Linked DNA regions of Homo sapiens: region 2 is linked to region 1. Evidence: fine-mapped expression QTL. A gene starts in region 1. The other region holds a variant in brackets. All regions are shown on one strand. Distances are from middle to middle.

What was found.
Region 2: its variant is fine-mapped to the expression of GNPNAT1 in whole blood (INTERVAL, PIP 0.96).

Annotation. Positions count from the first base shown.
Region 1 is chr14:52,789,505-52,794,877 of GRCh38, reverse strand. GNPNAT1 (glucosamine-phosphate N-acetyltransferase 1) reads left to right here and starts at 3,271. Exons shown (of 6, transcript NM_198066.4): 1 at 3,271-3,450. It overlaps LOC105370500 (a long non-coding RNA gene), which reads right to left and starts at 3,090. Exons shown (of 3, transcript XR_943867.3): 1 at 2,552-3,090. RefSeq lists enhancers at 2,649-3,163, 3,164-3,677, 3,785-3,874, 3,955-4,044 and silencers at 3,075-3,294, 3,395-3,474.
Region 2 is chr14:52,695,021-52,700,393 of GRCh38, reverse strand. It overlaps ERO1A (endoplasmic reticulum oxidoreductase 1 alpha), which reads left to right and starts at 4,836. Exons shown (of 16, transcript NM_014584.3): 1 at 4,836-5,026. The coding sequence starts at 4,913. RefSeq lists a silencer at 4,365-4,904 and enhancers at 5,155-5,204, 4,810-5,311. The variant C/G (reference allele first, on the strand shown) is at 3,248.

The DNA of each region.
Region 1 (5,373 bases):
CTAATTTTTGCATTTTTAGTAGAGACAGGATTTTACCATGTTGGCCAGGATGGTCTCGATCTCTTGACCTCATGATCCACCCACCTCAGCCTCCCAAAGTGCTGGAATGGTACAGGCGTGAGCCACCGTGCCTGGCCTGTACCATATTTCATCCAATCTTAGACACATCCATTGTATGACACGCCATTAATTTATATACCACTAAGAAAGAAACAATGTGGCTAATTTAAAATTATAATATCTTATCACTTGGAACTTGTAATACCTAGTGAAACAACTCTTCTATACTTAATTAGACATGGATTGTTATATCTAATTCCTGTGCAAACATTAAGAGGAAAATATAAATGAAATAAATTGGCTAAGGTATTCTTTTTTGGGGGGGGATGGAGTCTCGCTGTTGCCCAGGCTGGAGTGCAATGGCACAATCTCGGCTCACTGCAATCTCTGCCTCCCAGGTTTCAAGTGATTCTCCTGTCTCAGCCTCCCGAGTAGCTGGGACTACAGGCATGTGCCAGCACACCAGCTAATTTTTGTATTTTTTCTGAGAGACAGAGTTTCACTATGTTGGCCAGGCTGGTCTTGAACTCCTGACCTCGTGATCTGCCCGCCTTGGCCTCCCAAAGTGCTGGGATTACAGGTGTTAACCATGGTACCCGGCCAAGGTATTCTTAAACTTCTCATTCAGGCCAACGTTCCTGAATCACTTCTCAACTCAATCACTGACATCTATGTTTATCCACGTAATAGCCTTATTTGTGCCAATGAGAATATTGTTGTTGGTCAGACGCGGTGGCTCACACCTGTAATCTTAGCACTTTGGGAGGCCCAGGTGGGTGGATCACAAGGTCAGGAGTTCAAGACCAGCCTGGCCAACATGGTGAAACCCCATCTCTACTAAAAATACAAAAATTAGCTGGGTGTGGTAGTGCGCACCTGTAATTCCAGCTACTCAAGAGGCTGAGGCAGGAGAATTGCTTAATTGGAACCCAGGAGGTGGAGGTTGCAGTGAGCTGAGATCACACCACTGCACTCCAGCCTGGGCTACAGAGTAAGACTCCCTCTCAAAAAAAAAAAAAAAAAAAAAAAAAAAAAAAGAATAATGGTGAATGCAGCATTTCTTCTAAGAATCTAGAAAAATAAATAAAAATCAACCAAAGGACATACCAATGGTTCCATTAAACCAGAAGTTGAGACTGTCTCCTGGTTATCTTGGGCTCCTCATTGCCAAGTGAACCTACAGGCAAAGAAAGGGGTTAACTGTACTGGCCAGAGTAATCGACCTTGTCTATTAAGGAGAAATTGGGTTCTTATGGCCCAATGTGGGTAAGGAGGAGTATATGTGGAAAGTATGAGATCTCTGGGGGTACCTCTTACAAGCCTTGTGTTCTGTGATTTTAGAATTGCTTATGTTTCACTTTTTGCTAATTTATAAAACATACAGCAGTTTGTTGTACAGGATAAACTCACTGAAAACATTTGACCAGAAGTCTGATAAGAAAAACGGGGAGGGCCATATGCTTAAGATTAGTGGTGTGTACATAAGCATTTTTTTAAATTTTTGTTTGTTTTGAGACAGGGTCTTGCTCTGTGGCCCAGACTGGAGTGCAGTCTTGCAATCATGGCTCACAGCAGCCTCTGCCTCCCGGGCTCAGGTTATCCTCCTACCTCAGCCTCCTGAGTAGATGGGACTACAGGCACATGCCACCATGCCTGCCTAATTTTCAGTATTTTTTTTTGTAGAGACAGGTTTTTACCATGTTGCACAGACTGGTCTCAAACTCCTGGGCTCAAGAGATCCACTTGCTTAGGCCTCCCAAAATGTTGGAATTACAGGTGTGAGCCACTACGCCCAGCCATGAGTGTTTATTTTATTTATGCCTTACATATTCTTTTTTTTTTTTTTTTTTTTTTTAGAGACAGGGTCTTGCTCTATTGTCCAGGCTGGATTCAACCTTGTGGGCTCAAGTGATCCTCCTGCCTCAGCCTCTGGAGTAGCTGGGACTACGGATGCATACCACCACATTCTGCTCATGCCCTATATATTCTTTTGTATGTATGGGTGTAAAAACAGAGATAAAAACAGAGATATGGATGCCATCAACTCACTGATGTTTGAAGTTCTGAGAAAGCATAAATCAGTAAAGGAGTTAACTGAAATTTAAATCTCACAAATGAGCAAAAAATATGATTTCTGGTATATGATCTATGGGGTTCTTTGAATACTATTGCTTAAGAATAAAATACTTTGCGATTTCAATAAATTGAAAATTATGGTACAAGGCAAGGAAGGGGAGCTACTAGCTATGAGACTTTTGTAAATTATGTAACATCTCTGAACCTCTGTTTCCTCATCTGTTAAAATAGGGACAAAGTGCTACTTAGGTAAGACACTTCAGAAATGGGGCTCTGAAAAAAGTCACTTTTCTTCTCCTAACGAAAGGTTTCTAAACCTCAGCACTCCAGACATTTCAGGCCAGGTAATTCTTTGTTGTGCGGCGCTGTCCTGCGCACTGTAAGGCGTGAAGCAGTATTCCCGGCCTCTACTCACCTGTGCCCTCCACCATCTGTAGATTCCAATGACATCTCACCCCAGATGAGAGGCTGAAAATGATTCATACATTGCCAAATGTCTCCTGGGAGGCAAAACTGTTGCAGTGGAGAACCGCTGTCCTAACCCCATGTTCATCCAATAAAGGGTTTGAGGGACTGAGAAATGAAACAATAGTCCCGAAGGAGTAGAATGCAGTGGCCCCAACTCCTAGTTTCATGAAGGCAGGAACTGTGACTCAGAGGCCTGGGGATGCGGAGCTCTGAACTGCCAGCTGGTAGGAAAAGTCCTAATTAATGGATTGAATCATGAAGGGAGGGCAACAAGGAACAAATGGAGAGGGCCAGTGGCCGAGCCTTCGGTCTCAGGATCAAAGAGGCCCACACTGGTCACCACTTACGCTGCTGGGCTGACTGCTAGGTAGACGTATCTGCAGATAAACCGAGACAATGACGCGGTGGGAAAGGCCTTGGGGAGCGAGGAGGAGGAGCCGGGAGAGGCCAGCTTTGGTCCGGCGGCCACCGCCCCAGGCGCCGCGACTCGAGCCTCAGGCCCCGCCCCTCGCCCTCCTGGTCCCGCCCCCGCTCTCCGAGCCCCGCCCCTCGCCCTCCTGGTCCCGCCCCCGCTCTCCGGGCCCCGCCCCTCGCTCTCCGGGCCTGGGCGGGTGGCGCCTTGGCCTCCGCCTCCGCTCGCCTGCGCGCGGCCCTGCGTGAGGGGGCAGAGGCGAGGTGGAGGCGTTGGCGCTGCCACGTCTGGGCCGCGGTTCCCAACTGTGGCGCGGGCGGTGGAGGAGGAGGTGGGGCTGGCGCTGAAGCCGGATCCGGATCCGGTGCTGTGCACACTGGTGGGGGAGAGTCCGACGCGCCTGGCTAGGAGCGCCGACCGCAGGGCCTCTACGGGTGAGGAGGGACCGGGGCCGGGGCGCGAGAGCAGGACCGTGTGTCCTGGGGGCTGGGGCGGGCCTGCCCTCAGGTTTATCTAACAGGTGTGTCTGGTGCCCCGGCCAGGCCCCCGGGGGTGTTGTGTGGAGGAGCTGGGCGTTAATCCTCGCCAGCTGGGTGCACATGGTGTGGAGCGCGGTTCCCAGGAAGTTGAACGCACGCGCGCCTGGAGCAGAGGTTAAGGATGATGGCCAGCGGTCCGGCCATACGCTGGTCTTGGCCTGGCAGGGCTGGAACTGGGACTGGGGTCGGAACTTCGCTCCCCAGACTTTGGCGTGGGAAATGAGACAGTTGGTCGCGCTCTCTGCAGCCATCGGTTTTGAATGGGCACGAACGTCCCAGGCCCCTTCTCTTCTCCCATTCCCGGGCGCATCCCACGGTGGTCGGAGCCATTGAGGCAGCTGCTCCGAAGACCACCTCCGCACCGAGTAGGTCGGCGCTTTCCCCAGGGTACAGAGGGACATTCTTTGTCTCTTTTTCCTAGGCTCCTACCCCTAGAAATACCGAGTACTGTACTGTGATTTCTGTTGCGGGAGCTGATGTTTATGTAAGCCAAACTAATTTAAAATTTTCATACAAAATTGAACGGGCGATTATAGGATTCGTTTTGTTAGGATAATCCCTCATGAACGAATCCTAGAATGGATCTTAAGAAATTAATTTAGGCAGGATTTGCTAAATAGGGGAGAGAGCGCTAGCTGTATGGTATGATGATGTAAAGATTGGGGTCTGTTGAGGATGGTAATCGAGCTCAAGATGCGAAAACGAGGATTCTAGCCCCAAGTCACTTACTTGCTGTGTTACCTAAGGGGCAAGTCTTGGGAGTTCCAGGTGCTCCAGCTTCCTCATCGGTAGACTGGGAATAACGCCTAGATTGTAAAGGTCAAACTATCAGAAAATACTTTTGAACATTCATGCAGTTACACAATTTAATAAATATGGCCAGGTGTGTTAAAAATCTTTAACGGAATAGATTCAGAATGGATTCTTGTTATCGAAATTGTTATAAAATGAATATAAAGGAATCCGAAGTCCGCCCCTCCCCCATTCACCTGTACTTAGAAGGTTCCCCAGGAGCTCTTGAGAAATACATAGGCTGGTTTAGATTTGGCCTTAGATTGTATTTTTTAAAATTTGTAGATCGACTTTTAAAATCTTCATCTCCGGTGTCTATTACTTGTTGCTCTCCGTTGGTTGCTTCTAGCAGCAGCCTCTCTCCCCATTCGTATTCCAACCTGATACAGAGGCTCAGACGCCAAATAGTTGAAGTTTTGTTTAAAAAATATTCAATTGAGTGAAAAAATATTCAACTGATGTGATGACTAGTAAAAATGAATTTGGTGTATGCTTTCCGCGATATTGTGGCAGTTTGGGAATTTTTTTTTTTTTTTTTTTTTTTGTCCTTCTGGATTTTCTGAAATGTGACCTACAGGTAAGTCTTATTCGTTATTCATTCACTAGGCATTATTGGGCTAGGGTTAGGCTTAAACGGGTCTTCTAAACGCCTGCTAATTTAGCAGTTAATCAGAAAAGGTTCTGAGGAATACTTAAGGAGGATTAGTGTTTAAAGTTCATCTAAAAACTTTAAAGAACCTAATGATATGATGAGATTCCGCTTCACACAACTGTGCAATTTTATTCGCAGAAATTTCCTAGTTTTGCAATATCTGGGCACCTGAAGATGCTAAAAGATTATTTATATAAAATTACTTATTTAATTATGTTCTAAACCCCCTTGGAACCAGGTTTCAAGTCATATCTTGCTTCACTTTGCCCAGTACCTTAGTTGGGCACCAGCAGAATTTTACGGTTTGAGGACAGAGTGAGCTAAAGTGGGCCTTCAGTATGGCTCTGTTTTGTAGAATAGCTCATAAAAAAATT
Region 2 (5,373 bases), 94 kb after region 1:
ATAGGCTTTATTAATTTCCTCTTTTCTTATTGTGTTTCTCATTTTTGATGGCCTAATCTTCATTTATTAGTACTGTGGCCAGTGAAAGATTTTCATTTATTCCACGAACATGTACAAAGACAAGATCCTTGTTAAGGATCTCTGGGAGTCTCAGGGACATTTGAAACACAATCCCTGCTCAAGAAGTTTAAAGATGTTACAATTCAGTGAAGAAATATGAAGTAGAAAATATCATAAAAGATTATATACTAATGCTGAAATGAACATGGGAGTGCAGATATTTCTTTGACATACAAATTTTATTTTTATTTTTAAGACAGAGTCTCGCTCTGTCACCCAGGCTGGAGTACAATGGCATGATCTCAGCTCACTGCAACCTCCGCCTCCCAGGTTCTAGAAATTCTCTCACCTCAGCCTCCCGTGTAGCTGAGACTACAGGCACACACCACCATGCCTGGCTAATTTTTTGTATTTTTAGTGTAGACGGGGTTTCACCATGTTGGTCCGGCTGGTCTTGAACTCCTGACCTCAAATGATCTGCCCGCCTCAGCTTCCCAAAGTGCTGGGTCAGGCGTGAGCCACCATGCCCAGTCTGACACGCCAATTTTAATACCTTTGTATATACACCCAGAAGTGGGATTGCTGGATCATATGGTAATTCTATTTTTAGTTGTGTGTGTGTTTTTTTTTTGTCTGCTTTGTTTTGTGAGATGGAGTCTCGCTCTGTTGCCCAGGCTGGAGTGCAGTGGCGCGATCTCGGTTCACTGTAACCTCTGTCTTCCAGGTGCAAGCAATTCTCCTGCCTTAGCCTCCAGAGTAGCTGGGACTACAGGCACGTGCTGCCACGCCCAGCTAATTTTTGTATTTTTAGTAGGGACGGGGTTTCACCGTGTTAGCCAGGATGGTCTCCATCTCCTGGCCTCATGATCTGCCTGCCTCGGCCTCCCAAAGTGCTGGGATTACAGGTGTGAGCCACCGTGCCCGGCCTATTTTTAGTTTTTTGAGGAACCTCCATACTATTTTTCAAAATGGCTGTACTAATTTACATTCCCACCAACAGTGTACAAGTGTTTCCATTTTTCCACATCCTTTCCAGCACCTGTTATCATTCATCATTTTGGCAATAGCCATTCTAACAGGTGTAAGGTGACATCTCATTGTGTCTTTAATTTGCATTTCCCTGATGATTAGAGATATTAAGCATTTTTTTCCTATACCTGTTGGCTATTTGTATGTCTTTTTTTGAAAAATAACTGTTCAGAACCTTTGCTGCTTTTTAAAAATCAGACTATTTTCATAACATTGATTTGTTTCTTATACTCCCATGTTCATTTCTGCATTATTTACAATAGCCAAGATATAGGAACAACCTAAGTGTTCATCGACAGATGAATGGATAAAGAGAATCTTGTATATATATGCCTACTATACAGCCATAAAGAAGGAAATTATTCCCAGTACTTTGGGAGGCCGAGGCGGGCGGATCACGAGGTCAGGAGATCGAGACCATCCTGGCTAACATGGTGAAATCCCGTGTCTACTAAAAATACAAAAAAATTAGCCGGGAGTGGTGGCGGGCGCGCCTGTAGTCCCAGCTACTTGGGAGGCTGAGGCAGGAGAATGGCGTGAACCCGGGAGGCGGAGCTTGCAGTGAGCGAGATCGTGCCACTGCACTCCAGGCTGGGTGACAGAGCGAGACTCCGTCTCAAAAAAAAAAAAAAAAAGGAAATTCTGTAATTTGTGACAATATGGATTAACCTAGAGGCCATGATACCAAGTGAAATAAGCCAGGCACAAGAAAACAATTACCACATAATCTCACTTACATGTGGAATCTAAAAAAGTTTATCTCATAGAAACAGTAGAAAGGTAGTCACCAGAGGCCGGTGGGCAGGGAGGATGGGGAAAGGGGAGATGTTGGTCAAAGTGCAAAGTTTCAGTTAGACTGCAGGAATAAGTTTTAGTGATCTAATGCACTGCATGGTGACCACAGTTAATAAGAATTGCAAAATTGCTAAAAGAATAATTTTTTAATGTTCTCATCAATGAAAAATGAAAAGTTGGTGAGGCAATGTATCTGTTAATAAGCTTTATTTAATCTTTCTACAATGTATGCATAGATCAAAACATCCCATTGTATCCTATAAATATACACAATTATTATTTGTCAATTAAATATTTTTTAAAAAGTACATACTAAGTTCCATGGATGTCTCTCCAAGTGTAGGAACTGGACCTTATACATCTTTGTATCCCAAATGTCAAGCTCAGCTTGTCACAGAGTAAGTTTACTGAATTGAAATCATTGAGAGACTGGAACTGGGTTAGGAGGAAACCAGGAAGACGACTTAAGACAGGGAGAACATGACCTGGGTCTGGCCCTAAAAAGGATAACTGGGGCCTGTATATAGGAATATGAAAAAGAGCTTTTGGCCAGGTGCGGTGGCTCACGCCTGTAATCTCAGCACTTTGGGAGTCCAAGGCAGGCGAATCACGAGGTCAGGAGGTTGAGACCATCCTGGCTAACATGGTGAAACCCTGTCTCTACTAAAAATGCAAACAACTTAGCTGGGCGTAGTGGCACGCGCCTGTAGTCCCAGCTGCTCAGGAGGCTGAGGCAGGAGAATCACTTGAACCCAGGAGCTGGATTTGCAGTGAGCCAAGATTGCGCCACTGCACTCCAGCCTGGCGACAGAGTGAGAATCTATCTCAAAAAAAAAAAAAAAAAGAAAAAGAAAAAAAAAAAAAAAAGCTTTCAGGTTAGGAGGGAGATTGTATTAATATGTACATGTGACATGTTGTAGATACTAGAATTAGAGCTTCTCAGGTCCATCAGGATCTCAGATGGGTTGTTGACTTTTACTACATGTCTACTTGGCAGTGATAGGCAGAGCTCTAGGGTTTGCAGTAAAATACATGAGTTTAAGTCATTTGAACTATTTCAACTTTTAATGTGCATGCAAGATGTCGGAAAGCTGCCAGTTTCACCTAGAAACTACCTTCTTAGGCTTGGTGAAGTGGCTCACACCTGTAATCCCAGCACTTTGGGAGGCAGAGGCAGGCAGATCACTTAAGGTCAGGAGTTCGAGACCAGCCTGGCCAACATGGTGAAACCACATGTCTACTAAAAATACAAAAGTTAGCTGGGTATGGTGGCGCAGGCCTGTAATCCCAGCTACTCGGGTAGCTGAGGCGTAAGAATCACTTAAACCCGGGAAGCGGAGGTTGCAGTGACCCGAGATTGCGC[C/G]ACTGCACTCCAGCCTGGGTGAGGAAGTGAGAGTGTCTCAAAAAAAAGTCTTCTTAAAACAACAAACAAACAAACAAACAAAAAACAAAAAGTAAGGCCAGGTGCGGTGGCTCATGTCTGCAATTCTAGCACTTTGGGAGGCTGAGATGGGTGGGTCACCTGAGCTCAGAGCTAGAGACCAGCCTGGCCAACATGGCAAAACCCCTTCTCTACTGAAAATACAAAAATTAGCCGAGTGTGTGGTGGCTTACGCCTGTAATCCCAGCTACTGGGGAAGCTCAGGCAGGAGAATCTCTTGAACCTGGGAGGCAGAGATTGCAGTAAGCCAAGATGACGCCACTGCACTCCAGCCTGGGCGACAGAGCGAGACTCCGCCTCGAAAAAAAAAAAAAAAGTAATCCCAGCACTTTGGGAGGCTGAGGCGGGAGAATCGCTCTTGAGGAGTTTGAGACCAGCCTGGGCAACATGGTGAAACCTCGTTTCTACTAAAAATAAAATTAGCCAGGCGTGGTGGCGCACGCCTGTAGTTCATGCTACTCAGGAGGCTTAGGTGGGAGGATCGCTTGAGCCCAGGAGTTCGAGGTTGCAGTGAGCTGCGATCGCATCATTGCAGGCCAGCCTGGGTGACCCAGGGAGACCCTGTCTGGAAAAAAAAAAAGCGGATAGACTAGTCCCAACTCTGAATGTTAAAAGACCAGGACTGGGTATCAGAGGACCTCCAATCCTTGCTCACCTTACCTCACTTCTCTAGGCCTGTTTCTTCCTATGATATGAGCGGGTGGCTTCCACCCTCGCTGTCTAATACAGTGGGCACTAGCCAGCCACATTTGACTATGAAATGGGTCTAGTTCGCATCGAATACACACTGGATTTCAAAGACAAAAAAAGTCAAATATCTTATGAATAAATTTAATGTTGGTTATATTTTGAAATAATATTTTGCACATTCGGGGTTAAATAAAAATATTTTAAAAATAAAATGTACCTGTTATTTTTACTCTTTTGCTGTGGCTACTAAAAATATAAATGACATATGCTGCCCTGGTCTAGATGCTCTCTAATATCCCTTTCAGCTTTAAGACTCCGCCGGGAACACGGTGGACACGTAATTCGTACGATTTGATTGTCTCGCATTGAGATACGGAAGGATTGGCCGGGAGTGAGCGGGCTGGGGCTGGGCGGGGCGGCGCGGGGCGGGCACCCCCCGCCCCCCAACCCCGCAGGAAAACACAGGCCCCTCCGGCTTTCGCTCTCGCTCTGGGAACTGGAAGGACCCCCGACTCCCGCGCAGGGTCTGGGGTTGTGCGCGTCGGGTTGCGTCTCCAGGCCGGGGGCGTCAGGGAGCCGGGGGCGGGGACGGGCGCGGGCGCAGCGGACCGGGCGGGGCCGAGCCGGGAAGCTGGTCGGTGCGTCAGCCTCACGCGGCGGGAAGGAACCGGTCCGAGGCCCCGGGCTGCCGGCGCGGGCGCCGCGGCACGTCCACAGGCTGGGTCGCGAGGTGGCGATCGCTGAGAGGCAGGAGGGCCGAGGCGGGCCTGGGAGGCGGCCCGGAGGTGGGGCGCCGCTGGGGCCGGCCCGCACGGGCTTCATCTGAGGGCGCACGGCCCGCGACCGAGCGTGCGGACTGGCCTCCCAAGCGTGGGGCGACAAGCTGCCGGAGCTGCAATGGGCCGCGGCTGGGGATTCTTGTTTGGCCTCCTGGGCGCCGTGTGGCTGCTCAGCTCGGGCCACGGAGAGGAGCAGCCCCCGGAGACAGCGGCACAGAGGTGCTTCTGCCAGGTGAGCGATGTGCGCGTTGGTGCTGAGGGTCCCGGCGCCCTCCGCGGCGTGCACTGTCCCGCACGCCCTGGCGGGTGAGCGGCTGGGGGTGCGTCCTTGCATCTCTTCCCACCGGGAATGAGACTCCGGTGCTGCTGCCCGGTGGCCGGGACTGAGTCTGGCTTGGCGTGGACCGGGCCTCCACGGCAGCCTGGACGTCGCCGCGCCCTCCGGTGCCTCGGACCAGGAGAGGGGTTGGGTGCACGCGGTTGAGTGGGTTTATGCATCTTTGTTGGTCTTATCTGCCCGGGGAGAGTGTGCACAGTGTATAATGCCCTGCCAGTATTTGCTATTTTCACAGAACCTGG